Homo sapiens: one gene and its partners. The protein of the gene in region 3 purifies or fractionates together with the protein of the main gene of each other region. This does not show direct contact. Each region holds a gene or a part of one and is shown on either strand. Other genes may lie near its edges. The genes, in order: FKBP14, TINAG, TSHB and SMCHD1.

Region 1 (6,933 bases), on a different chromosome or scaffold from region 3:
TGGCTGGGGAGGTCTCACAATCATGGCGGAAGGCAAAGGAGGAGCAAAGGCACGTCTTACATGGTAGCAGGCAAGAATGAGTGTGCAGAGGAGCTGCCTTTTATAAAACCATCAGATCTCGTGAGACTTATTTACTATCACAAGGAGAACAGCATGGGAAAAACCTGCCCTCATGATTCGATTACCTCCCACCAGGTCCCTTCCACAACATGTGGGGATTATGGTAGCTACAATTTAAGATGAGAATTGGGTGGGGCCATAGCGGAACCCTATCAACTGGGGACGAGGGAAATAGAATGTCCTGGCTCATGAGTTGAAGAGAGTCTAGCCTAGGAAAACCAACCTGCCGAACTACATACAGGGAGGCTTAAGGGCTGAGTAATGCCTGATCCCTACCTAGCTCCCTTTCAGTGCAATAAGGAAAATATTCTATTCAAGGATATCTTGTAGGTGAGAAAAAGAAGTCACTGTACTACGCTTCATGAGTACCATGGTTACTAAATCTGGGTAATGCCATTTTTTCCTGTAATTTTGCCCAATGATCAAAGTAACAAAATGCCAACTGTAGAAAATTTGGGAAGGCTAGAAATGAAAAAAGAAGCAGGAAACATTCTACTACTCATCACTGACTACAATTTTAGCACAGTTCTTCTTAGGGCTAAGCAATTTATCCCATAGGCTATGGTTCTAGAGATGGCAAACGTGCTTACAAACTGATCATTTGATGGTATTTCTTTTTCTTCAGAGCGGAGTCTCGCTCTGTTGCCCAGGCTGGAGTGCAGCGGCGCAATCTTGGCTCACTGCAGCCTCCGCCTCCTGGGTTCAAGCGATTCTCCTGCCTCAGCCTCCTGAGTAGCTGGGATTACAGGTGCCCACCACGCCCAGATAACTTTTGTATTTTTAGTAGAGACGGGGTTTCACCATGTTGGCCAGGATGGTCTCAAACTCCTGACCTCGCGATCTGCCTGCCTCGGCCTCCCAAAGTGCTGGGATTACAGGCGTGAGCCACCACGCCCAGCCAATTTGATGGTATTTCTTCATGAAGTTTACAGTTAGCAGCTTCTGACCATTTACATGGAGGCTGCATGATAACAGTCCCCTCATCAGGTATTAGAACTTAGTAGCAAACTGCTAAATAATATTCCATGGCTACCACCAAAGTCAGCACAGGTTTTTGGTTCAGAAATCTGAAAGAAGTCAGGCTGAGTCTAAAAGAGATCAGACTAAAAATAACAATATAACTGAATTTTCAAAATGCAAATCACATCATTTAATATCCACCGTGGCACTCACCTAGTTGACAAGAAGAAAGGGCTGTTGAGAATTCTAAGGCAAGCCATTTTTCTGGAACTTTTTCCCAGGGCTAACAGTTTAGAGAAGAGCCCCATTCATTTCCCCAACCCTCAAGACAGACCAGGTCTGAATGCCCAGTAAAGGCAGTTTATTAGAAAATCAGGTGGAGGATGGGCTATGAAGATTTACTGTTTTAATTCATGTTATTCCCTCTACCTACAACATCCTTCCCTACTTTCCCCCTGGAAACCTCCACCCATCTTCCAAGGTTCATTTCAATTATGGTCTCTGGGAAGTCTTTCCCTTTCCCCACCCCATGGAGCCTAACTACTTCAGGCCCAGTTACGCTTTGCTAGCACTTTGAATATTCTGTACCCTATATCATTGCATTATTTACTTGTCTTTCTCCCACCTGTAGATGGTGTATACTGTTAGAGGACAAGAACCTGCTTCTAGCCATCTTTGCGTCTCCAGGACCTGACTTGTGACCATTCAATAAGAGTTTGATAGATGGACAGACTAATGAATAGATGAAGATGATTAGAAGCCAAAATTTCTGAATCTTCCTAGCACCCAGAACATGGCTTAACATCAAGGAAATGCTCACTAAATACTGTCATAATGGAATGAATGGAACCGATGCCTAATTGAAAATCATTAGGCTGTAAACCATTTCCATGTTCCAATTTCTTCGTTTATAGAACAGAAATGATAGTGTAACCACCTGAAAATCCTTCACCTAGACTTCCAAAACCACACCCACCTCATCAATGAAGTCTGACTCTCTAGAAAGAAGCAAATGACTGAAATCATGGTCCTGTGCCTTGACCAAAATACCATTCGTCAGAACAAAAGAAGTAGGTCAGTGAAACGGCATTAGTATATCCTTCAACAGGCAAATAAGTGATAGTGTAGTTTGCTTTTGAAGTCGCTGTGAAAAGTTTTAGGTGAACATCACCTACACCACATTAAAAATGGAATCAAGTCATTTTCTTTAAGAAATGGAGTTTGAGATATGAGAATTCTTTTGGGCTTTTTCTACTTATTGGCCAATTATACACCCAGATATATTTCTGCAATATTTCAAAGATTCTAGTTCTAATTTGTATAATAAAAAAAATTAACAGCCTTTTCCAGACCACATGTTTCCAACAAGACCTTCAAAGGCCTCGCTCGCTATATAAAACTGGCTTTAAACAATTTCCTTTCCCAAAGAAGGAAATAAGATATTTCGGTTTTGTAAAAGAGGCAAAACCAGGTACAGGCCACCTTTCCTGCTGGAGAGCTGGCATAAGTGAGTGGATTCTTAATTACTATTTTACCTGCGGGGCATAATTACTTACGTGGAGTGAAATAAGGAGCCGTCCTTTTCTAAGTAGCCTTCATAGTGGACCAACATCAAATCCCCTCCTTTGGTCTTGCGATGGCAGATGAATGGCTTCTGGAGAACTTCAATTTTCACTTCTGGTTCAGGGATCAAAGCCCCAATCAAAGAAGTGACGAACAGAGTCAAGACCGCGTTCCACAAGAAAAGCCTCATGTTGCTGAAGCAAGGAAAGAAGTCCCTACAAAAGCAGCGAAAGGTCCCTCGACTTCATAGATTTAAGAACGTAGTTCAAGGCTTACGGACAAGGGCTTCAGACAAGTTCAGGACTCCCCCTTCTTAGAAGACGTGGCACATTTACCACCAACTCTTTTCTCAAGGGTCACGAACCTACCTTTAAAGAGTTAAGCCCAAATGCCGGCCTGACTGGCTCTTATAACGCGGCCGCCTGGGAATAGCAGCCTCCCATTGGCTATTGGTGCTGTCCTTCAGGCAGCTCTCAAGCCAATGACGCTGCAACGATGGAATTTACAGCCCGGTAGAGCCGGGCAGCTGCCAAGCGGCGGATCATCCCTTGTGGTCCTAGAGCCCGGTGGATTTCAGCATTCAACCAGCGTGGATTTTGGGAGAGGGGCGGGGCGCAGAGCCAACCGGAAACTCCTCCGGCTGATTTATCTCTGTGAAGAACCCTGCTGAGAGACGTAGGAAGAGTCCCGGGGCCCTATGAAATCTTCGGGGTTCCAGGAAAGACTCGTTTACTCTCGCCGTTGGAGAGCGGCCCCCCAAGATGCCACAATCCTAGGATTTTGCTATTGCTTATAAACTGTAAAGACTGACATACTGCTTGAGGGTTCACAAAGCGCGTTCCCGTTGCATGAACCTCACTACACCCAGTAAGGCAGGTTCTTTTTTCCCATTTAAAAGAGAAGTAAATTTACACCAGGAGATATTAACTGTCCTGCTTAAGGTTGTTTGGCCCCGAAGCAAATGAGCTCTGCCTTCAAACCAGGTCTGATTCATTCCACAGCACCACGTCATGTTATGGCTGCTAATAATTTATCCCTTAAGTTACCTTACAGGGTAAATAATGAGTTTCGACTTGCAGACTTCCGCTTTAAAGAAGAAATGGTAATCATGGTTACGAATTACACAGCCTCATCGTAGTTTACATTTTCTAGTTTTACATTTTTTGCCTAAGTTCAAAAGTAATGCATGTTCATTGAAGTCATTTTGGAAGAAATTGGAAAGCACTAAAGTAAGATTTCCAGATAATATTGGGGAGTCGAATCAAGTTGGAATTTCAGATACATAACGAATAATGGTTTTGCATTTTTATTTACTAAATCAGGCAACTTTAAAGAAAAAGAAAGCTCGCCGATACCACCACCAGCCGCAAACAATCCTCTTAATATTTTGGTGCATGCTTCTGTGACATATACTTAAAGCGATTTAAATCGTATTGTAGTCTTTTCTCACCTCCTCTTTCCACTTAATCTGTAGTTAACATTTTTTCTGGTCTAATAACCTTAACACAGTGCATATCCGCACTCTATGTGCATAGGAATCCCCCTGAAGATCTTGTTTAAAATGCAGATTTTGATCTGGAGGTCTGGGGTGGGTGCAAGATTCTGCATTTCTAACAAGCTCTTAGGTGATGTCAGTGCTCCGGGTCAGTAGATCAACACTTCCATAGTGAGACCTTAGAGTCTGGACAACATCTGTTTACACTGGCCTCATAGTATTCTACCCTGAAATTCCAATAATCTCTTTACGCCCTGTTATTGGTTACCTCAAGTGTGTGAGATCAATTAGGCAGCTTTGGAACAAGAATAGGGACTAGAACTCAGGAGGTATCGTGAGAGGTCACGTAGACCCTCAAACGGCGGGCACCATTTACAGTCAGAACTGCGCTCCACACTTGTCTCAGGGGCCTCCCTCCTCCCGTCGCCTAGTCCGCAGTCCGCGTCTCGGGACTCAATTTCCCTGCGGGCCGTTCCCGCAAACTCCGCCCCGCCGCCGCTGCCGCGAAATCCCGGAGTGGATTTTGGGAAGGGGCGCGCGAGCGGCGCCCTGGGCATGCGCGAGCGCGTCCCGGGCCCGGCGAGTCGAGGGTTCAGGTGGTGCGCCGTGGCGCCGCCTGCGACCGGCAGCTCGTTCGCCGCACTTTGGAGGCTTCGGCTGCCCCTCCGACCCACGTAGGGCCCGGACCCGGGCCTCCTTGTGAACAGCGTGCCGGCTTCGCCCCACGGGTTCACCGGCTGGCTGGGCTTCAAGCGCCGAGGCCGCCGCAGTGACCCCGCCCCCGGGCCGAGGATGTGAGGCGGGCCGGGCGTCCCCACACCGGGCCCGGGCGCCGGGAGTGGGCGTCTGGGCAGCGCCAGGCGATGGCCCTGCTGCTGGTGCTCCTCGCCTCTTGGGGCCTGGGGCAGTGAGGGGGCCGGCGGGCGTGGGCCGAGTGGCCGCGGGCGCCATGGAGGGGGTGCTGTACAAGTGGACCAACTATCTGAGCGGTGAGTGGCCGTGCCGGGCCGGGGGCGCGCCGGGGGCCGGTCCTTTGTCTGCGCGGCTGGAGGGCGGTGTCTGGACCCGTCTTAGGGAGGGGGTCACGGCCCTTTCCTGAGGCCAGCGCGGAGCGGGAGTATTTCCCAAAGCAGTTCTCTCACGGGACCGTGTCGCCGTGCAGGACGACACGGCCCTCTCTTGGGGTTGGTTAAGAGCTGTGGCTGCCCTTTCGCTTCAAGGAAGGCTACAAAGACTGAGATTTTGGGTGACTTGAAAGGCACGGTGCTCTTGATGTCAGCGGGAGGAAGGCGCAGACGCCCCGCCGTGGGGTTCTCTGGGAATCTCTTGAATTTTGGCGAAGGAACCGTACTCCCTTGGCTCGCAGCTAGGTTGGAAGGTTTCAAAAGAATGCCAGCAGTAACCTGGAATTCCACAGCGGAAAGATCCTTTATCAAAGTCCTCAGTGCAAACACTTTCCCTTTGTCACCTTCAGAGTCATCTGCGTGCACACCAGGGTGTCAAGAGTCCCAACTCCACAGTTTCAAAGCTCTGCACAAGGTTTTTTATTTTCTCGTTGAGCATTTCCTTTTGTTTTACAGACTCAGAAATTACCGTTAAATGAATGCAAATATTTGCAACTTTCTTGCCGTGCCTTACAGATTGGCTTTAAAATAGTCCCCGCCCTTTTTTTCTAGTTTGTGGAGGTAAAAGCTTCATATCTTGAGAAGGTTGTAACTGTTCTACAGCTGTGAAAATTATTCAGAACGATCATTTTTGTCATGTGTGCAACTAGTATTTAATACAAGCCTACTATATGCTGGAAACTGTGCTAGCCACTTTTTTGGAAGTAAACTTTTTATCACAGAAAATGAATTAGGTCTTTAAAATTTTAAAGGCAGTGTGTTTGAAAGCAGAAATGTTCCCAGTATCCCTTAGAGTGGGTGAGAGACGTTTTCTTTCTTTTGTGGGATAGTTTTTAAAAGGTTGTAGTATGGTAATGCGCCGGGTGTTTTAAGAATGGGTGTGTGTGGGAGGATCAGTTGGCATACATAGTAACTTCGAGGAGGTCACACAGCACAGCCAAAGGTGCCCCTATTGGGCGTACCCAGAATCTCTTCCCTTTGCTTAGTGTAATTAGCAGTGAGTTCACCTGTTTATTTTTTTTCTGTAATCATTAATAGAGACTAAATGAGAAGAGGTTTTTCTTGTTTGCGTCAAGGACCTTCAGTGATGTCTGCAATTAGATTAGATGAGAATAACTCAAAGCTAGGCTTTGGTTTGGTGGATGACAGAGGCTGATCAACACTGCTAACCTAAGGGGAGGAGGCTCGACCTGGCAGTTTTCCTTCTGAGGTCTCTCTAAGCTCTCAGATGCATATACTTGAGTAAAATTTAGTTCCTGATCCTTCACTCCTTTCCATTACACACACTTTTTTTCATTCATCTTCAACATTCTTCTTTTTTTCCCATTCTTCCCCATCCCCAACTTTTTTTGTTGTTTTGTGGGGTTTTTTCCCCCTCTTTTCCTTCTCCTTTCTATATAGAAAGTTTAGTCTCTTGATACAGTAACTATTTCCTGGTAGTGAAATGCTTTTGCTGTTGTTGTTGCTGACTGTCCTTGTGTATCCTTCAATAAAGCAGAACTCTCTAGAAGGATCTTTTGGAATCTTTGTTATTTGATTCCTATCTGTTCTGTTGGAAAAGAGTCTACTTTTTTCTTCCCAAAGTAAGAGAAGTTAATGCTGTGAGTGGTGCTAGGGTGGAAACCCTGAAGAAGAGGGCACTGGAGCCATTGCCAGAGACAGCTGTCTCTA
Region 2 (7,029 bases), on a different chromosome or scaffold from region 3:
GGTATGCATTTAATCTAAGTCTTGCCAGATGGCTCTCAGAAGTAGCTGCATTAGTTTATGTTCCCCTAGTACTATACGGGGACACGTCTCTAACAATTAGTATTATCCAGAGAGGTAACCTTTACTTATATAATCAGTAAAACGTGATTTCTCATTGTCATTTTAATTTGCATTTCTCTAATTTCTAGTGGGTTTGAGCTTCTCTTCATATGCTCATTAATGATTGGCTTTCTTCTTCCTGTGACTTACTTTTTCCTATCCACAGCCTTGTAATGCAACTTAATATCAGGTACAGCAAGTCAGCTTATTCACCCCCCTTTTTTGAAGATGACTTAGGTCATGTAGACATTAATCTTCCATAAACAGTTTTTGAATAAGTTTTTTTAGTTCCTCAAAAAACTTCAGCTAGAATTTTGAATAGAATTGCATAAAATTTATAGACTTATTTGAAGATAGCTGAACTCTGTAATGTGATGACATCTCATCAAAGAGTATAGGATATTTCTCCACTTACTCTGATTTTTAAAAATATCCTTAAATAGATTTAACACTTTACTCCATAGTGGCCTTATAATACTCTTGTTTATTCCTGGATATTTATTTTGTATTGCTTTTTTTTTGTTTGTTTTTTGTTTTTTGTTTTTGACAGGGTCTTGCTCTGTCACCCAGGCTGAAGTACAGTGGCGCCATCATGGCTCACTGCAGCCTCGACCTTCCCCGGGCTCAAGTGATTCTCCCACTTTAAACTTCCAAGTAGCTGGGACTACAGGTGCCTACCACCATGCCTGGCTATTTTTTTGCATTTTTAGTAGAGATGGGGTTTTTCCTTGTTTCCCAGGCTGTTTCAAACTTCAGAGCTCAAGCACTGTATTATATATTTTTAAAATATATTTTATAGTTGGTTGGCTGTTGTTATGAATAAATGCTATTTATTCATGAGAGCTCATATCCTACTGGCAATTTTTCTCAATTCTGTTATTAGAAACAAAAATGTATTTATTTATCACAGTAAAGCTGTCTACACCAGAACTCCAAAGTAAACATCATACATAATGGAGAAATGTAGATAAGTTCCCTTTAAGACTAGTAATAAAACATGGGTTTCTACCGTTTTTGCTACATTTAACAGGGAGATATTTGTTATGCTTTAAGAGAAAAAATGAAGTAAAACAGTCTGAAGAGAATAAAGTAAAACTCTTATTATTTGTAGATAATGTGGCAATCTACATAGAAAAAAATAAAGCCAACAGAAAATAGCATTAATATGAATCAGAAATATTTAAAAACCAGGATTTTTTATTTAAAAATCCAGATGTTTAGCTACTCTTGAAAAATTGAAAAATCTGACAATTCTGCGTGCAAGGTCTTGCATGAGATTTTCATTAGTGAGAGAGATGAGTGGTGGATGCCACCTTTTGGTAACATGTATTTTCCATTTTCCCATATCCCTTACCCCTTGCTATTTTCTCTCTGACCCACTTCTCTCATCTCTGCCGGGGTCAGTATGTCTGTAGTTTCTGTAAGTGGAACTCCTCATTTTTGCTCCATATACAACTTGCACAGCTGTACATGCACCCTTGGGCCATTACTATTGCAGGTATTTTGGGATTGAAAGAAGGTAATTTCTTTGAAAATGGAAGGTGTATTTTCATCGAAAAATAGAAAATACATGTTTAAAAATAGAAAATACATGTTTAATAGAAAATACACGTTTAAAATTAGCATCTTAAACATGTATTTTTTTGAACTTCTCTATTTTGTCATGTTGGTATGATCCTTAAAATAATAGGTGAAGTTAATATGTATTAGTAACATGATGAGAATACATAAGGCATCATAAGGAGCCCTGTGCCCAGGATTAGTTAGGGATCGTATTCCTGTTATTTAAATATAGTTTCTAATAGTGACAAGATTGGGCAGACAAGGGAAATTCACCCCTCACAGAACCTGCACATAGTACATATTTACTTAACAGACCCTTCTGTAATACCCTGAGTAGCATGTTTTCTCTTGTCTTACTGAACATACTCTTCCTCCTCCTTACAAGCTAAGATTTATTGAATACTTACTATGGAGCCAACAACTGTTCTAAGCACTTTTCAGGTATTAACTCATTCATTATTTAATTCTATGTTGTTTAATAGAATATTACTTTATTTTAATTATACAGCAGCTTCTTAAGAGTAAACACGGTGATTTACTTATCACGTACTAATTATGGTGCCATGAAGTGGGAGGCCTAGTAAATATTGTTTGAATTTGGATTAATTGATATTTAGAGGATTTAAATTTTATTTCAAATTTTGTATTTGTTAAATTAAATAATAATTTACTCATATGATTTAAAATAATAAAATATTTTCATAAGCATACTTTTTCATACATAGTTTTAAAAGATATTTAGAAAATATCAAAGTATTATTGTTTATAGTTTAAATGTGCAATTTCTATATTATTTTGGATGTTGGAATATCAACAGGAGTAATCGATAGTATTTAAAACTTTTTATATATCCATGATTGTGGTAAGCATTGAGGGTCATAAGAAAAGGGTATTATAAAGTCCCAGGCCTCGAGAAACTTAGGATCTACATGGGTAAGGAGACTTAGGTATGCGAAACAATTAAGAAGCATCGTGTGACTTGTATGCCACATGTGGACAAGAGTATCACCCAGGAAAGTTGAGTATATTAAAATGGTTAAATGTTTATTTGATAAAAACTATGTACCATATAAGAACATGTCAGATTGGTGACAACCCTAACTAAAATACGTATTTTTAACACATAAGATATTTTGCCTGGATTCACTTTGTCATTAGCCACGAGGCTCCATGCAGCCTTCTGCTTCACCATTCTTAGAAAATGGCCCTTGTAGTCATGAGCTGCTTTGGCTCTTCATGATCCAAAAGTGATATTTGAGTCCCATTTAAAATAAATGGAAAAGAAGGTTAGAGTTTCCACATTTTGAGAAGACATTCTAAAGCACAGATGAGCACCTCTGTTTTATTTCTTTGGCCAGAATATAGTCACATGGACATACCAACCATCAAAGAGAGGTTTTTCTTAGCTGTGTGGTAATGTGTCTAGCTATGAATGGGGTTCTGTTACAAAAAAAAAGAGTAGAGAATGATATTGGGAATAACCAGCAATCTCTGCCAAAAATTAAGAATGCGGAATCACCTAAAAACACAGTGGCTATTTGGATGTCTGCCTTTTGATTAGTTATTATATCAATTTAATATTTTTTTGAGTCTCAGTTTAAAAGTATGAGTTGTAATTTTTTAATGTGCTGAAATGTACTTGAGATTTTCTTATTTGAGGCATACAGTGCATACAAAAAAAGTAGTTGCTACTTCTTCAATATCCATTTTTGCTTGAGAGGTAGAATTTTGCTAAGACTTTAATTTAGGGTCATAGTTTATGTAGAATTTATGTTCCAGGTATAGTTTTTACTCCATTCACTATGAAAGGAAGGAATTAATCATTTTACTTTGTAGCAAAAAGTTCACATTAGACTATAAATGCTCCCATACAGATAATTTTTTTTCTTTTGTTTTATCTTGCTTTTGAAAGCAGCTACTTGAAAATAGTACTACACAATATTGAAAAAATGTGCAAAATTAGTTAAGATAAAAATACAATGTATATTATTTATGCTATTGGTTGCATGCATAAAGCAACTTTCCTCTGAGATTCTATGATCACTCACTGATCTATTAAATATATTTTTCAGAGATTTAGTTACATGGGTATTGTTCAGTTCCTCTTATTGTGCCTGTTCTAAGAGCTCTTTAAATCAAGGATTTAAAACTATGTACATTATCTTCAGGATTAAAAAAGTAAATATATCCATTTTGTACAAACTGGAAGTAAAGCATATTGGTAAATATCTTCTTTCTGTATTTTCTTTGCCATATCTGATGGTAACTTCCAGTAAAGGATTTCAAATGTCAGGCTGGGTGTGGTGGCTCACACCTGTAATCCCAGCACTTTGGAGGTCAAGGTGGGAGTATCTCTTGACGGCCAAGAGTTTAAGACCAGCCTAGCAGTACAATAAGACCTCATCCCCACCAACAACAATAAAAAAAATAAAAATTAGCCAGTCATGGTGGCATACACTGTAGTCCCATCTACATGGGAGGCTGAGGCAGGAGGATCCCTTAAGCCCAGGAGTTTGAGGCTTCTGTGAGCTATCATTCCACCAATGCACTCTAGCCTGGATGACAGAATAAGACCCTGTCAAAGTAAAAAAAAAAAAGTAAAAAAATTCAAATGTCAGATATGGAGAACCAGTGACAGAGTTGAAAACAGAGCTCGAGTGGATTTTCTAGACATAACCTTTTGGTATAGAGGATTTTAAGGAGAAAGTCTAGTAGACCATCTGCTGTGAACAGACCTAAGTTGATTTGATTATGCACAATATGTTCACATTGGTAAAAAATGTATGTGAGTCACTGACATGTTTGAATTCGAAGAGGGTTATTTACTTCTTCACAGCCTCCTTAACTATATTACAATGAAGGTAAATCACAGTCCATACTTTGCCACGTATACTGACAGTTACAAAAATATGACACAAACCAATTCATACAACGTCTATAAGCTTCATGAAATCTCCAGTTCCTGTCCTTTTACGTGTTCCCACATCTACGTTGCATGAAAGATTTATTGGAGGCACATGTGATAATATTACAGAGGTAGAACTCTGTTACCTATACAGTGGCTATCAGAGAATGACAATTCCTCCTTTCTACTTGGCTGGACACAGTACACAGGACAAATATCAGTCCTAGAGAGCCAAGTCTAAGAGTACAGGTGCTTTTGAGTTTAAGAGATACATCTAAGCTATGGGATACAAGGGTGGTATGTGACTTTGAAATATTTTAGGTAATCCTCATAAGTAAAAAAATTATAATTTAACCAATGGGAGCCAATTATTTATCACAATTATGCTGATTAACAAGTCATGAATTTTAACAATAAAACCCATTTCTGACATTTATTATACTAATAATCTAGGGTTGATCAAAATATGGGTAATGGAAGCACTTGCAGCCGTTTCTCCAAAGCCTGGTCTTTCAGAGTGAATGCCACTGAACAACCCTGGGGGGTGGATTCCTGATTAGAGCAAGCAACTGCCTTTACTTTAGTGAAGTTTAGACCAGCACAGATATTTATAATACACTGTGGTGAACTATTTTAAAATAAATTATAGACAACATGTCATTATCTTTTTGCAATTCAAGAAGTGAAGTTTTGACCAGCATAGATACTTATAATACACTGTGATGAACTATTTTAAAATAAATTATAGACAACATATCATCATCTTTTTGCAGTTCAAGAAGTGAAGTTTAGACCAGCACAGATACTTGTAATATACTATGATGAATTATTTTAAAACAAATTATAGACAATGTATTATTTTCTTTTCTCAATTCGAGAAGATAAACTATTTCATTCTCCAAATATATTATTTGCCTAATATTGCTTTAAATGCTGTTAAAGTCACAAAACTGCCGTAATTTCAACAGTCATTAGTTTTGGCTTTGTTTTGTTTTGTTTTTTTGGTCAAGATGCTGTGTGTAACCAATTAATTAACTCACTCTGAGGAGCTCCAGACATATTTTACTGAGAAAGTAAAGCTACCGGACAGGAATTCTTTCATATCTCCACAATCATAGTTTTCAACCTACCTCCATCTGGGTTACTGCTTACCTTGAATTGACTCCCCTTCTTGAGTTCTGAATCCCATCTTCTCTTATCTTTTCAATACCTCCATCTCTACCATTCTCTCTCGCTTTCTTGCTCTCTCTTTCTTCTCAAGCATCATTTTTTTCTTTTCTTTTCTCCTGGTGATATGGTTTGGCTGTGTCACCACCCAAATCTCATCTTGGATTGTAGCTCCCATAATTCTCACCTGTCATGGGAGGGACCCAGTGAGAGGGAATTGAATCACGGGGACAGGTTTTTCCCATGCTGTTCTTGTAGTAGTGAATGAGTCTCATAAGATCTGATGGTTTTATAAATGGGAGTTGCCCTGTACAAGCTCTCTCTTGCCTGCCACCATATAAAATGTCTCTTTGCTCTTCCTTCGTCTTTTGCAATGATTGTGAGGCCTCCTCAGCCATGTGGAACTGTGAGTCTATTAAACCTCTTTCTTTTGTAAATTACTCAGTCTTGGGTATGTCTTTATTAGCAGTGTGAGAACAGGCTAATACATGTGGATTAACCATTAATTTCCAAAATGTGTTTTTGCCTTTCCCAACTTTATAAAATCTCTCCCTTAACTTCATGTCTTTAACCAGCTACCATCTCATTCCCTTCTTTCCTTTAATGGCAAAATGTCTGAAAGAAAAATTTACTTTCTTATTCCAAGTCTCTCATCAACCCATTCCTACAGGATGTCAGCTCCCTGCTACTTCACTGAAATCTCTCTTGGCAGGGTTATTGGCAATTCCTACATTACCAAATGCAATATTCAGATGTCTGTTTTTGTGTTCTTGGCCTCTCGACAGTACTGTATGCAGCTGACCACCTAGAGCATTTGAAACACTGTATTAACCCTGTTTTTCATGACACCACCCTCTCCTCAATTTTCTGTTCCCTCACAGGCCACTCCTTCGCAGTTTCCTCTTCTGAATGTCTGTCAGATGCAGTGTTTTGAGCTCAGTCCTGGACCACTTTCTCTTACCTATATACACTCTCTCCAAAAGACTCTTATTTAGTCTTGTGTTTGAAAAAGTAGATATGGATGTTGGTGTCTCCCAAATTCATGCTCCAGCCTGGGCTTAACTCTTGTCTTTTATAAACTGCTGTCTACTTGATATCTCTGTTAGGATGTCTAGCCTAGGTTTTATCTAAATCTAAAATATACACAGTAGCAGTCTTGATTTCTTGACACAAGCCTGTTTCTTATTTTAGTGATAGCTGTACCATTTCTTTATTACTCAAGCCAAAGTCCTAATGAGGTATCTTTGATTCCTCTTTTCCCTCATTCACCAGATTCAATCCATGAGTGATTCCCT
Region 3 (7,274 bases):
TCAATATCAATTGGATATCATTATCAATATGTATTGATTGGATATAGTTATATTGGATATGATATCATATTGGATATATCATATCAATATGATATTGATATGATATTGATATTGATATCATTATCCCTCTGGATAATGTTATGACATAATTATTTTAGGTCTACTACTGAGGAAGGGTAATTAAATTTCAGACTTTTGAATGTAAGTTGATCACCTTGAAGATTAAGAAGAATTTTTTTAATCTTACAAATATTGTACAGCTAGCTAGATGTGTTTGGATTTTTTTCCTTCTCAAGTATCATTGTCAGTAAAGAAAATATATACCTTAATGGAGTAGTATTGTGGTCTATGAACATAAACTTGTTTGCTTGTTCTATTAAATAAAATATAATTTACTAAATATTTTGTTCAATAATCAGAAGTACCAAGATTTCCCCAAATCTGTCAGTTATATCCCAACAGCATCTTTAAGCTATATACACTAAAACCTCTGTAAACTGAAACCTCATAGGTTCGGCCTTGGTTAACCAGGATTTTTTTTTCAATCAACTTATAAGAAACCATGAAAACCACATTACACAGGTTACCAGGGATTTATTTTAAATGTCAAATTCCAGAGATCAGTGGTCATTTCAATCAACCTTCTATTCCTAGAATGAGAATTGTAGATAAATTAGATAAACATATATTGAGCATCTGAACCAGGCACTGACAAACACAAACGGAAAAGCTACGGTCCTTTACCTAAAGGGCTGACTGTCCAGTGGAGGAGCTAATATGAACACAAATAATAAAAACGCAGATTGTTCTAGTGCTCTGAAAGAGTCCAAATTAAGACTTTAAGACCTACAATTATCAAAGATTTATGTTTACTATACTTCTTATTACACAAGAAAGTAAACTAACCCATTTTAGGAAGACTTAACTTTTAAAGGTTAAAATAACAGGGGTTTTTCTCACAAATTCTTTTAAATGAAATGTTGCATATTCAAACATTCCACGGAAGGTTTGTTTGGTATTTGAGTTAAGGAGCAAAAACATACAAATTCCTTACTCATGGAATCTGGCTTTCTCAAGCGCTTCTCAAATGTGAGCTCCCTCTATGGTACAGAGTTGCTTCCAGTATTTTAGAGATACAGAACTTGATGATCCTCTGTAGGATCTTAAAATTACTAACTGGTAAATTATGTAAAATGCTTACCCATCATGGCCATTATAGTTCTTGCTTGTTTAGACAGCCAGCTACTGAGTTTTTTCTATAGGAAACAACTAACTTCACATATTTTAACTTTTAGCTCTATAATTCTGTATAAAATCAATGTGGTGACCTGGTGATGAAAATATTGGTCTAAAAATTAAGAAACAGAATTCTTCCATAAATCTATGAGAACTTGACTAAAATATATAATCTGTTTGAGTGTTATTTCCCCATCTGCAAAATAGAAAGTGACAAGTACACCTGACCCTTTTTAAAATGTAGGATGAAAATTTGTTTTGGTTTTCCTATTGTCATACTAACTATGGATACTCTATATTTTTTTGAAGTTTCTCCTATAAATGTAGAACTCTAAACTAACAAAAGTAGAAAATGGAAGTGCTGAATTACCAGCCACAGTATCTGTACAACTTTGTGGGCATAAAGAAAGCAAGAACTTTTCTTTTCCTTTACTTCTTTATTGCGAATAGTAAAACTTCACCCACAGAATCTTTCTGGGCCTCAACTTTCTCACCTATAAAAGCAGGGCTTAGAGCCAGAAGATGATCATGAAAATCTTCGCAGCACAAATAGTCTGTAATTCTATATGATAAATTAGTGTCAGATCTGATTGATTGATTAAGAGTTAGTGATCTAAATTCTACTTAAGGATTTAATTGTAATTGTGTGCAACTGAGCAATTTAATATCTTTGTGCCTTCATTTTTCCATATGTCCCTTCCTAAAATCATAAAAAGAATAAAACAATACATGTGAAACACTTGGCTCTCTATATAAGAAAGATCACATAGCTGTATAACACTGTACAAATCCGCGTTAGTTAATCCCTTCCTCTGTGATATGCCACAATTTCTTCCTCATTGTCATCTGGGTTCTCATCTTTGCCACTTAATTGCTTATTCTGAAATCACCATGAATAATTTGTTGGGTACCTAAACATAGAAGGCATGGTTTCAGGCAGGGCCTAAATAATGAGATGCCTTCTTCAGATGCATGGACATATATGTCCCTACTTTGAACGTATTTTCTTATTCCAAGATATGTTCTTTCCTTTGCCTCTTTCCTCTCTTTTTTTCTCTTATTTTTGCTCCCAATGCTTCATTCTTAATAAACACTTTCCTCTCTGCTCTGCTAATTTCCTTCATTAATTTTTACTCTCCAAATCCCTTACTATGAAAAGAACTAATTGCCCATCCTATGAATAATCCTGGAACTTCACTAAAGCAGTATATTTTTCTAGAAAGCAAAATGTACTATACAGCAGCTGTGTGTGTGTTGAACACTATCAAAGGAGGTTTAGCTATTAAATAACTAAAAAGAACTTATAATACAGAGTACATTACCCCAGCAGGTACTCAAAAATGAATTTGCTCTAACATTCCCGGAAGTACATTTTCATAAAAGATGGCCATTAGTACAGTAATTGAGAGGATTTAATACACACATCATTAAATGGACAACAATATTTAAATCAAAATGAAAACAGAAGAAAGCCATGAATATCAAATATCCTTCATTAGGGAACTAATCAGTTGTTTCTCTTTCTTTAAGTCAATGAATTTTTTCCTTATCCTTATGTAGGTAGTTCTCTCACCTCCATCTACTACTAAACAATTTGGAGCAGTAATTTAAGATATTACAGCCTGTTGAAGCAAATTATCTTTCAGCATTTGCCACTTTCTAAAAAATGATAAAATGGTGAAAGTGAAAAAAAATAGCTTAAGAACATATCATTTCACAGAGCCTTCTCACTATAGACACCTACCTTACTTTGCATTGGTGAGCAGATGCTGTGGTGACCCAAACTAAAAGCTCTTGGTTCATTTTATACCCTTCAGGATAATCCCTCTGATCTTCTTGTTTATACAATTGCATTTGATTTACTGCTTTCTTATCTGAAAAGCATCTATTGAAAATTCATACTGAATTCCAAATAAAATGTATTTAGACAAACAAGCTCACAATATCTTTACCTGGAAACTGACATTATTAAAGCATGCATTTTCCTCTCTTCTGTTTCAAAATAAAATTACCTTTTAAATATATTCTTTATTAATATTTATTTATTAATATTAATAAAAGATAGATACAGAATGGGAAAAACCAAATTCAAAAAACACTCTAACATCATCTAAATAAGTCTTGGGAATAAAAATTTATTTGGGGCTTGAGGGCTTCAAGTTTTACCTAAATGTTCATGTAAAGATATATAAAATTATTCCTCATCTAAAAATTTTGTTTAGAACAAAATGTGTAGTTCAAAATATTTTTGGGGGATTTTAAGATATTAAGTAAAATTTACACATGTGAAAGAATGACTCTGAGGAACATGGCCACATCTGACAGGATGTCAAGCTGACCTGAGATAAAATTTTGGCCCTGCCATTTACTTGCCATATGACATTGGCATGCTTGACCTCTTCAGTTTCTATTAAAAGGTAATATCACTTCTCTAATGATTTGTGGTGTGAGCATTTTTTCATATGCTTATTGGCCATGTATATATCTTCTTTTGAAAAGTGTCTGTTTATGTCTTTTGCCCACTTTTTAACGGGGTTCTTCAGTTTTTGCTTATAAATTGTTTAAGCTCCTTATAGATTCTGGATATTAGACCTTTGTCAGATGCATAGTTTGCAAATATTTTCTCCCATTCTGTAGGTTGTGTGTTTATTATGTTGATAGTTTCTTTTCCTGTTACATCAGGTAACAAAAGTACACGATCCTAGAGAGATGGGAAACAAACAGGGAGAAACTGCCTGGAGAAAGTTTCTGGGCCATAATGCAGAAGCCCTTTAGTTAAAGGTCCCATTTGTCAACTTTTGTTCTTGTTGAAACTCCATTTGTCGTCTTCGTCATGAAATCTCTGCCCGGTCCTACATCTGGAATGATATTTCCTAGGTTATCCTCGAGGGTTTTTACAGTTTTAGGTTTTACATGTAAGTCTTTAATCCACGTTGAGTTGATTTTTCTATATGGTGTAGGGAAGGGATCCAGTTTCAGTCTTCTGCATATGGCTAGCCAGTTATCTCAGCACCATTTATTGTACAGGGAATCTTTTCCCCATTGCTTGTTTTTGTCAGTTTAATTGAAAAAAGAATGATTGTCAAATCAGGCAGCCCTCAGAATCAGAAGAGATTCACAGAGCTCTGCTCCTCAATGTGGGCAGACAGCATTTATGGACAGAAAGTAGAAATGAGATATCGAAACAGCTTGATTTCATTATACATCAGCACTTGCCTTACTTGGACAAAGTCTGATCAGCTGGCTGCCTGTAATTGACTGAAGCTCAGCTGCTGTGATGAGCTGAAATTCAGCTGTCTGTTACAAAAGTATACTCCTAAGTTAGGCTTTCAGGTAGTGTACATACTAAGTTAGGTTGCAGTTCATTATGTAGGAACTCACAAAACAGAGGTATCCTCAGGCCACATTTAGTTTAACAGATATATACCTAGAAATGGCCATGCCAGGGTCCAAGGTCTTGGGAATGTGAGCTACTATGTAGTAAGATAATTTTGAAAACAGGGAAACTGGAAATGAGTGTGCCAACCTAATTTCAGACAAGATGCTAACACAGGAATATGATAAATGGAAGAATGTTGGATGTGTGTTTCTAATGGAATTAGTGCCTCCTTTGTATAAAGCATTGATTCAGGAACTCATTTTCTAGCGGATTTATATACCTATCCCTGGGAGATATATGTATGTATGTGTGTGTGTACATATGTAATGGACAACTGATAGACACTTGGCCTGTTACTAAAAGAACTATAATAAATACCATGCATTTGGGTAGTGATTTTCTTGCTAAAGAGGCCTTAGTGTATATGATCTCATACTGTTAAAAGAATCCAGGCATGTTGAATTTGTGCTTCTGATCCAGGTTTACTTTCTCACCTAAAATAATTATAAAACAGTACAAAATATATAAAATAATGTCTTTATACATATTGGACATCAGGTAACAAAAGTACATGATCCGAGAGAGATGGGAAACAAACAGGGAGAGACTGCCTGGAGAAAGTTTCTGTGCCATAGTGCATGAAAAGTTACCAAGGCAGAGGCCAGAAGCATCACCAAATTGAAGAGATAGACCTGGGAGTCCATGGATCCCCAAGGCAGCTAGAGTTCACAAGAAAGACATTATCAAAAAAGAAAACCACAAACTAATAACCCTCATGAAATGAACATAGATGCAAAAATTCTTCACAAAATTTAACAAAACAAAATAAACAATATGTAAAAAGAATAATACATCATGGTCGAAGTGGAATTTATTTCAGGAATGCGAGTTTAGTTTGCATTCAATTAAGAAAATTCACCCTACTAACGGGCTAAAAACTAAAAGCCTTATGATGATCCCAATGGAAACACACACACACACACAACCACATACACAAAAAGCATTTTACAAAATCCAACATAGATTCCTGAAAAAATTTTCGGCAAACTTGGAATAGAAGAAAACCTCCTAACTTAATAAAAGGCATCATGGAAAATTTATGATTAATATCATGCTTAATATTGAAAGACAGAGTACGTTTACTCTAAGATCAGGAAAAAGGCAAAAACGTCTGCTTTTGCATCTTCTATTAAACACTGTGCTGTAAGTGCAATGTTAACGCAATAAGCCAAAGGAAAAAAGACATTCAGATGGGAAAGGAAGGAGTAAAATTTTATTCACATACGACATGACCATCTATGTTGAAAATCTTACTGAATCGCTGATTTCAAGATGGTAAACCTATGGTAATTAAGAAAGTGGTGTTAAGACAGATCATTGGAACAAAATATGGTCCAGTAATAAACCTGTACACATGTGGTCAAATTATTTTCAAGAAAGGTGAAAACAAAATTGAGTAGAAAATAAATAGTATTTTCAACAAATGGTGCTGGAACAATTCGTTATCCATATATAAAAATAAATACTTTTTAAAAATAAATAAATAACTTCAATACATATCTTGCATTATATACAAATATTAACATGAAATATAAAAACTAAAATTCTAACATTTCTAGAAGAAAGCATGGAATAAAACTTTTGTTAGGGCCGGGCGAGGTGGCTCACGCCTGTAATCCCAGCACTTTGGGAGGCCGAGGCGGGCGGATCACGAGGTCAGGAGATCGAGACCATCCCGGCTAAAACGGTGAAACCCCGTCTCTACTAAAAATACAAAAAATTAGCTGGGCGTAGTGGCGGGCGCCTGTAGTCTCAGCTACTTGGGAGGCTGAGGCAGGAGAATGGCGTGAACCCGGGAGGCGGAGCTTGCAGTGAGCTGAGATCCCGCCACTGCACTCCAGCCTGGGCGACAGAGCGAGACTCCGTCCCAAAAAAAAAAAAAAAAACTTTTGTTAGGCAAAACTTGAATTAGGCAAAACTTTCTTAGATATAACACCAACAGCATGATCCATTTTCAAAAAATGATAAATTGGACTCCATCAGAATTAAGAACTTCTCTCTTCGAAAGGCATTGTTAAAAGAACGACATACCACAAACTGAAAGAAAAGAAACTTGCAAATTATATATAAGATAAAGAACTTGTATACAGAATATATGAAGAACCTGCTATACTCAATTATAAGAAAAAAATTATCCAATTTTTTAAATAAGCAAATGTTTGAATAGACATTTCACAAAATTATGTAGATGGGAAGTAAACAGATGAAAAATTTTCATCATTAGTCTCAGAGATAAGAAATTAAGACCTCAATGACAGCACTACACACGTCTTGGGCTGCCTAAAATTTAAAAATTGGAAATACCAAGGGTTAGCAAGGATGTGGAGCAATCGAAATTTGTATACAATGTTTGATGGAAACATAAAATGGTACAAGTTCGTCAGTCCATAAGTCTCTCAAAAAGTTAAACATACACCTACAATATGACCCAATCATTCCACTCCTCAGTATTTATCTAAGAGAAATAATAAGATATATCCATACATGAACTTGTACATAAACATTTATAGCATCTTTATTTTTAATAGCCCCAAACTGGAAACAACCTGAATGTCCATCCACAGGTGATAAACAAATATGTCATATATATGCAGTAGAA
Region 4 (7,029 bases), on a different chromosome or scaffold from region 3:
AAGTTAGCATTTTATAGCACGGAGGGAAGAACAGCCATGCTTTGTAAGACATACAGGTCCATTCAAACGAATAACTTTAAAAATTAAAGCAAATTATAAATTAGAGGGAAACTGGCCAGGCATGGTAGCTCATGCCTGTCATCCCAGCACTTTGGGAGGCTGAGGCCGTCGGATCACAAGGTCAGGAGTTCAAGACCAGCCCGACCAACATGGTGAAACCCTGTCTCTACTAAAAATACAAAAATTAGCCAGGTGTGGTGGCGCACACCTGTAATCCCAGCTACTCAGGAGGCCAAGGCAGGAGAATCACTTGAACTGGGGAGGCGGAGGTTGCAGTGAGCCAAGATCACACCACTGCACTCCAGCCTGAGCAACAGAATGAGACTCCGTCTCAAAGAAAAAAAAAAATTAGAGGGAAATTGCAACAAGAAACAAAAGGGTGACAAGGATCAACAAAGAGAAAAAGTAAAAACACAAAAAAATGAAAAGGAGAAAATACAAATGACCAATGAACACATGAACTGTAAAATCACATTAATCAAAAAATGAGAATTAGAAAAGTGGTTAACATTTTCATTTACATTAGAATTAAAACATACATGCTCTGTCTAAAATGAAACAATACAGCAATATATAGTTAAGAGAAAAGGCTTCTGTTTCGGGTAGTAATGGACTAGTCTAAAGATTAACATTCTTATTGAAAACATCTAAAAAATCTAGACTAGTGATACTCAAATCTTCAAAAATGATATTAATAAAAACCATTATTGCTCACCACTGGGATGAGCTAGGGCACCAACTTGTCACTCTGAACACTGACAAATTAAAGGGAAAGAACAAATTATTTACACTGCTTTTCTTGTATCAATGGTACTTCAGGATAACCAAAATAGCTCTGGCTGATGAGGCAAAGTTGTTCCTTAAAGAATTCCAGCTAATAAACACAGGAGGAATGGCAAGTCAGATCAAAACTTCCTTATGGAGGAATCCTGCTGAAATCACGTGAATCCCAAGATTTTAATGTTAGCATTGCTATGAGTGGGTGAAACACCCACACATCACGTGCCTCCCAGTGTAATGCCATATGAAGTATCAGTACTACCTACAAAGCATTCTTTGCCTCCTGACCCCAAAGAAGTTGAACCTAAATCAAATCAAGCCTTTAAAGCTAACTTTTAGTTTACAGAATACATACGGAGATAAAACAAATTAAGTAACACCAAAAAAGAGCACAAACAAATCCATAATGTGGAATATTAAAGACCTAGTTGATTTCTTCAAGAGGTCAACTGCAGGAAAACTAAAGAGACTGGTGGAGGAGGAATTTGCTCAAATGCTTTAAATTGAAAATAATTAGGAAACAAAAAAAAAACAAATTTAATGTGAGGACTATGTCAGATCCTGATTTAAACAAACCAACTATAAAAAGATACTTTTAAACATTCAGAGAACTCAATATGGACAGGGACATTAGACAATATTAAAAATGCTTTATTTTAATGGTTTGATAATACATATTCAGGCTGAAGTATATGGGGTGAAATGACCTAAGACCTAGAATATGCCTTAAATACATTACAAAAACAAAAATGATCCTAGTGTGGTAAATTCCTATTAACTTGAATCTGGATGAGTACACTGGGGTTCATAACATGATTCTCTCTTTGTGTCTGAAGGTTTTCATAAGAAAATTTCTACTTTAAAATATCCTGGAATAGGCCGGGCGCGGTGGCTCAAACCTGTAATCCCAGCACTTTGGGAGGCTGAGGAGGGTGGATCACGAGGGCAGGAGATCGAGACCATCCTGGCTAACACGGTGAAACCCCGTCTCTACTAAAAGTACAAAAAAATTAGCCAGGCGTGGTGGCAGGCGCCTGTAGTCCCAACTACTCGGGAGGCTGAGGCAGGAGAATGGCGTGAACCCGGGAGGTGGAGCTGGCAGTAAGGTGAGATCGCGCCACTGCACTCCAGCCTGGGCGACAGAGCGAGACTCCGTCTTAAAAAAAAAAATTCCTGGAATAGACCAGTGGAAGAGAATAGAGGGCCCTTAGACAGGTCCACATATATATGGATGCAGAGCCTAGCAAACAAGAGAGGTGACATTACAAATTGGTGGGGAAAGAATAAACTATCCAATGAATGATATTAAGACAACTAGTTATCTCAACATGGAAACAGATAAAATCCACACCTTAACTTAGACAAAAATAAATTCCAGGAGAATTAAAGCAGTTGTACATTAGCCCAAAATTGTAAAAGAACACATAGGGAAATAATTTTGAGTGAGCATAAAGGGATTTCTGAAAAGGTACAAACAGTGGGCCAGGCACAGTGGTTCACAGCTGTAATCCCAGCACTCTGGGAGGCCAAGGTGGGCGGATTGCTTGAACTCAGGAGTTCAAGACCAGCCTGGGCAATGTGGTAAAACCCCATCTCTACAAAAAATGGAAAAAAAAAAAATAGCTGGGCATGGTGGTGCACACGTGTAGTCACAACCACTCAAGAGGCTGAGGTTGGACGATCCCCTGAGCCTGGGAAGCCGAGGCTGCAGTGAGCCGTGATCACACACTACTGCACTCTAGCTTGGGTGACTTTTGAGTGAGACTCTGTCTCAAAAGATGCAAATAGCACAAGTCATAAAGAAAAAGACCAGACAACATAAAAAGATCAACATCACTAGTTATCAGTGAAATTAATATAACTTATTCTCATCAGGTAGGCAAAAATGTTAAATTCTGAGCCCATCAAGTGTAGGCCTCTGTACAGAGAAATAGGTACCTTACACACTGCTGATATGACTGAAAAAAAGTCAAACATAAAGAAAGTAATTAATTTGGCATACTTTAGTAAACTTAAAAGATACTCATATTCCATGCAATTCCACCCTAGAGAAATAAAGCCATGAACATAAACTGACTGGGAAGATTCTATTTGTTTAACAGAGACAAAAATGACCTTATAGATTTTTATTAGGTTTCATATAACCATGACAGTCGTGTATTTTTTAATTCATTACTACTTTTTTATTTCTATGATGTCCCTTTTTTTTTTTTTTTTTTTTTTTGGTTTTTTGTTGTTATTGTTGTTGAGATGGAGTCTTGCTCTGTTGTGCAGGCTGGAGTGCAATGGCACGATCTCAGCTCACTGCAAGCTCCGCCGCCCGGGTTCACACCATTCTCCTGCCTCTGCCTCCCAAGCAGCTGGGACTACAGGCGTGTGCCACCACACCTGGCTAATTTTTGCATTTTTAGTAGAGACAGAGTTTCACCACGTTGGCCAGCTGGTCTCAAACTCCTGACCTCAGATGATCTCCCTGCCTTGGCCTCCCAAAGTGCTGGGATTAGAGGCGTGAGCCACCAGGCCTGGCCAATGTCCCACTTGTTAAATCATGTAATTATGCATCCTGTAGTTACTGAAAAACTATGTGCAAATGATTTTTTTAAGATCTATGTTCACCTAAACATATCTAATTATTCCATATAATCCCACATAAGTCTATTATTTTTTCTTTCTTTCTTTCTTTCTTTCTTTATTTATTTATTTATTTATTTTATTTTTTTTTTTTTGAGACGGAGTCTCGCTCTGTCGCCCAGGCCGGACTGCGGACTGCAGTGGCGCAATCTCGGCTCACTGCAAGCTCCGCTTCCCGGGTTCACGCCATTCTCCTGCCTCAGCCTCCCGAGTAGCTGGGACTACAGGCGCCTGCCACCGCGCCCGGCTAATTTTTTGTATTTTTTTAGTAGAGACGGGGGTTTCACCTTGTTAGCCAGGATGGTCTCGATCTCCTGACCTCATGATCCACCCGCCTCGGCCTCCCAAAGTGCTGGGATTACAGGCGTGAGCCACCGCGCCCGGCCTTTCTTTATTTTTTACAGATTTTTTTGAGTACTCTTCTACGATAACTGCATATAATAGTTCATTTAGCCTTCACTAACTACATAGAAGACTCCCCCTATTTCCTAGCTGTCAAATTATCTACGGATAGGAATGCTAGCACCTTATTCTCTTCTTCAAACAATGGCAACCGGGTTATCGCTCCTGACCATCTAATTGTATCCAGTATTGCCTGTATTTTCCTGCACTGGAGCAAATAGTTCATTTTCTTTTGATTTTTAACCCATATTAAAAACCCACAGATGTTTAATCCATATTAAAAACCCAGATGTTTAATCCATATTAAAAACCCACAGATGTTTAATCCATATTAAAAACCCACAGATGTTTTTTAATCCATATTAAAAACCCACAGATTTCTAATCCATATTAAAAACCCACAGATTTCTAATCCATATTAAAAACCCACAGATTTCTAATCCATATTAAAAACCCATAGATTTTTAATCTATAAATCTACTATTATTCAATTAAGACACACAAACTATCTTTTTTTTTTTTTAAGTTCCTGGATACATGTGCAGAACATGCAGGTTTGTTACATAGATATACATGTGCCATGGTGGTTTGCCACACCTATCAACCTGTCATCTAGGATTTAAGCCCCACATGCATTAGGTATTTGTCCTAATTCTCTCCCTCTCCTTGCCTCTTACCCTACAACAGGTCCCTGTGTGTGATGTTCCCCGCCCTATGTTCATGTGTTCTCATTGTTCAACTCCCACTTATGAGTGAGAACATGCAGTGTTTGGTTTTCTGTTCCTGTGTTAGTTTGCTGAGAATGATGGCTTCCAGCTTCATCCACGTCCCTGCAAAGGACATGATCTCATTCTTTTTTATGGCTGCATAGTATTCCATGGTGTATATGTGCCACATTATCTTTATCCAGTTGATCATCAATAGGCATTTGTGTTGGTCCCACGTCTTTACTATTGTAAATAGTGCTGCAATAAACTTTAAAATTAATCCATATTAAAAATCCATGGTTTTTAATCCACATCAAAAATCCATATGAAATATCCATGGATTTTTCATCCATATTAAATATCCATGGATTTTCCAGGGGGCATGGTGGCGCATGCCTGTAATCCCAGCACTTTTGGAGGCCGAGGTGGGTAGATCGATCACCTGAGGTCAGGAGTTCCAGACCACCCTGGCCAACATGGTAAAATCCCATCTCTACTAAAAATACAAAAATTAGCCGGGCATGACGGCTGGTGCCTGTAATCCCAGCTATTTGGAAGGCTGAAGCAGGAGAATCGCTGGAACTTGGGAGGCGGAGGTTGCAGTGAGCCAAGATTGCGCCACTGCACTCCAGCCTGGGTGACAAGAGTGAAACTCCCATCAAAAAAAAAAAAAAAAAAACCATGGATTTTTAATCTATAAATTTATTATTATTTAATTAAGACACATAAACTATCTTTTTGTTTTCCCTGCTTCATCTATAAAAATTATTTCTTGAATTCACAATTTTTCTAAGTATTTTATTTTATTATTGTTTGTTTGTTTTTTGAGACAAGAGTCTCGCTCTGCCACCCAGGCTAGAGTGCAGCGGTGCGTTCTCAGCTCGCTGCAACTTCCGACTCCCGGGTTCAAGTAATTCTCCCTGCCTCAGCCTCTCGAGTAGCTGGGATTACAGGCACCCGCCACCAGATCCAGCTAATATTTGTATTTTTAGTAGAGACGGGGTTTCACCATGTTGGCCAAGCTGATCTCTAACTCCTGACCTCAGGTGATCCGCCCGCCTTGGCCTCCCGAAGTGTTGGGATTACAGGTGTAAGCCACTATGCCGTCCCCAACTTCTCTTAAATATTTAAGGACTAACTGACTTGCAGTGCATAAAATGATTACCTACCAAAATGATCAGTTAATTTTATTTTTAAAATTATTTTTTCACTATCTCTGAACAACAGGTAATTTTCATCCATGGATTAGTCAGAAAGCACACAGCTTAATTAGCACTGCTCTGAAACTCTGCAAACTAGTCAGCTTTTAATGTGGCTCCATTATATTTCGTTACCTTACTATGGCACTTGCTAAGCCATAGTTTTCTGCTTTTTTTTTTTTTTTTTTTCAAAATCTCAAGTTTATTGTAGAAATTGATGAGCACATCTTATATTAAAATACAAAACACCTAGAATAGCCGCACAACAAAAAACATTGGAGCCACACAAAGGAAAATGTAGACAATTTCTTCAAATTGGTGGTGGGGGGATATGCACACATGGGACTTAACATCTGGGCATATTTTAGAACTAACCAAATGAGTCATCTTCTAATCGTTGATTCTGCAAGGCCACAAGGGCTCAGGTGAGTCAACAGCTGCTTATCAGAGGTCTAAGGGCTTCTTGCAGATTTGTCCTTTCCATTTCTTCCCTCTCCTTTTCCATGAGGTGAACTTTATTCAAATAACAATTTAGAGCTGGGCGTGGTGGCTCATGCCTGTATTCCCAGCACTTTGGGAGGCCAAGGCAGGTGGACCACCTGAGGTCAGGAGTTCAAGATCAGCCTGGCCAACATGGCAAAACCCCATCTCTACTAAAAGTATTAAAATTAGCCAGGCGTGGTGGCAGGCACCTGTAATCCCAGCTACTCAAGAGGCCGAGGCAGGAGAATCACTTGAACCTGGGTGGCAGAGGTTGCAGTAAGCCAAGATGGCACCACTGCACTCCAGCCCGGGCAACAGAGCGAGACTCCGTCTCAAAAAAAATAAATAAATAAGTAACAGTTTAGGATCACCCATAATACTGCCTGACACTACAAACATTTATTGGTTTAATTTACATTTTAACAAAAACTTTAGTATATTATTTTGTCTCTTCCCCTAAGGACAAAAGTGATGGTTCTAATAAATAGTGTGGAGTAGTGTAAAAAATATATATATGTGTGTGTATATATATGTGTATATATGTGTATATATGTATATATGCGTATACACGTATATATGTGTATATATGTGTGTATGTGTGTATATATATGTATATATACATATACATATATATACACACACACATATATATGTATATGTATACATAAGCTTTGGAATCAAATTGACCTAAATTCCAATCCCAGTTTCACTGCTTGTTGACCATGTAATCTCAGATTATTAATTCACTGACTTAATTCAGTTCTTCG

What was found.
Region 1: the proteins of TSHB (region 3) and FKBP14 purify together in Homo sapiens (affinity purification with mass spectrometry; 2 studies listed by BioGRID and IntAct, with this or other methods). This does not show direct contact.
Region 2: the proteins of TSHB (region 3) and TINAG purify together in Homo sapiens (affinity purification with mass spectrometry; 2 studies listed by BioGRID and IntAct, with this or other methods). This does not show direct contact.
Region 4: the proteins of TSHB (region 3) and SMCHD1 purify together in Homo sapiens (affinity purification with mass spectrometry; 2 studies listed by BioGRID and IntAct, with this or other methods). This does not show direct contact.

The regions. Positions count from the first base shown.
Region 1 is NC_000007.14:30,023,676-30,030,608, forward strand, and holds the start of FKBP14 (peptidyl-prolyl cis-trans isomerase FKBP14 precursor), read right to left. Parts: upstream 3,028-6,933; 5' UTR 2,834-3,027; coding exon 2,637-2,833; exon of another isoform or gene 1,712-2,636; intron 1-1,711. Other genes in the region: PLEKHA8 (pleckstrin homology domain-containing family A member 8), read left to right, coding at 5,088-5,127. UniProt on the Homo sapiens protein: PPIase which accelerates the folding of proteins during protein synthesis. Has a preference for substrates containing 4-hydroxylproline modifications, including type III collagen. May also target type VI and type X collagens.
Region 2 is NC_000006.12:54,311,433-54,318,461, forward strand, and holds part of TINAG (tubulointerstitial nephritis antigen), read left to right. Parts: intron 1-7,029. UniProt on the Homo sapiens protein: Mediates adhesion of proximal tubule epithelial cells via integrins alpha3-beta1 and alphaV-beta3. This is a non catalytic peptidase C1 family protein.
Region 3 is NC_000001.11:115,025,567-115,032,840, reverse strand, and holds the start of TSHB (thyrotropin subunit beta isoform 1 precursor), read right to left. Parts: upstream 3,016-7,274; 5' UTR 2,981-3,015; intron 1-2,980. UniProt on the Homo sapiens protein: Indispensable for the control of thyroid structure and metabolism.
Region 4 is NC_000018.10:2,658,703-2,665,731, reverse strand, and holds part of SMCHD1 (structural maintenance of chromosomes flexible hinge domain-containing protein 1), read right to left. Parts: intron 1-7,029. UniProt on the Homo sapiens protein: Non-canonical member of the structural maintenance of chromosomes (SMC) protein family that plays a key role in epigenetic silencing by regulating chromatin architecture.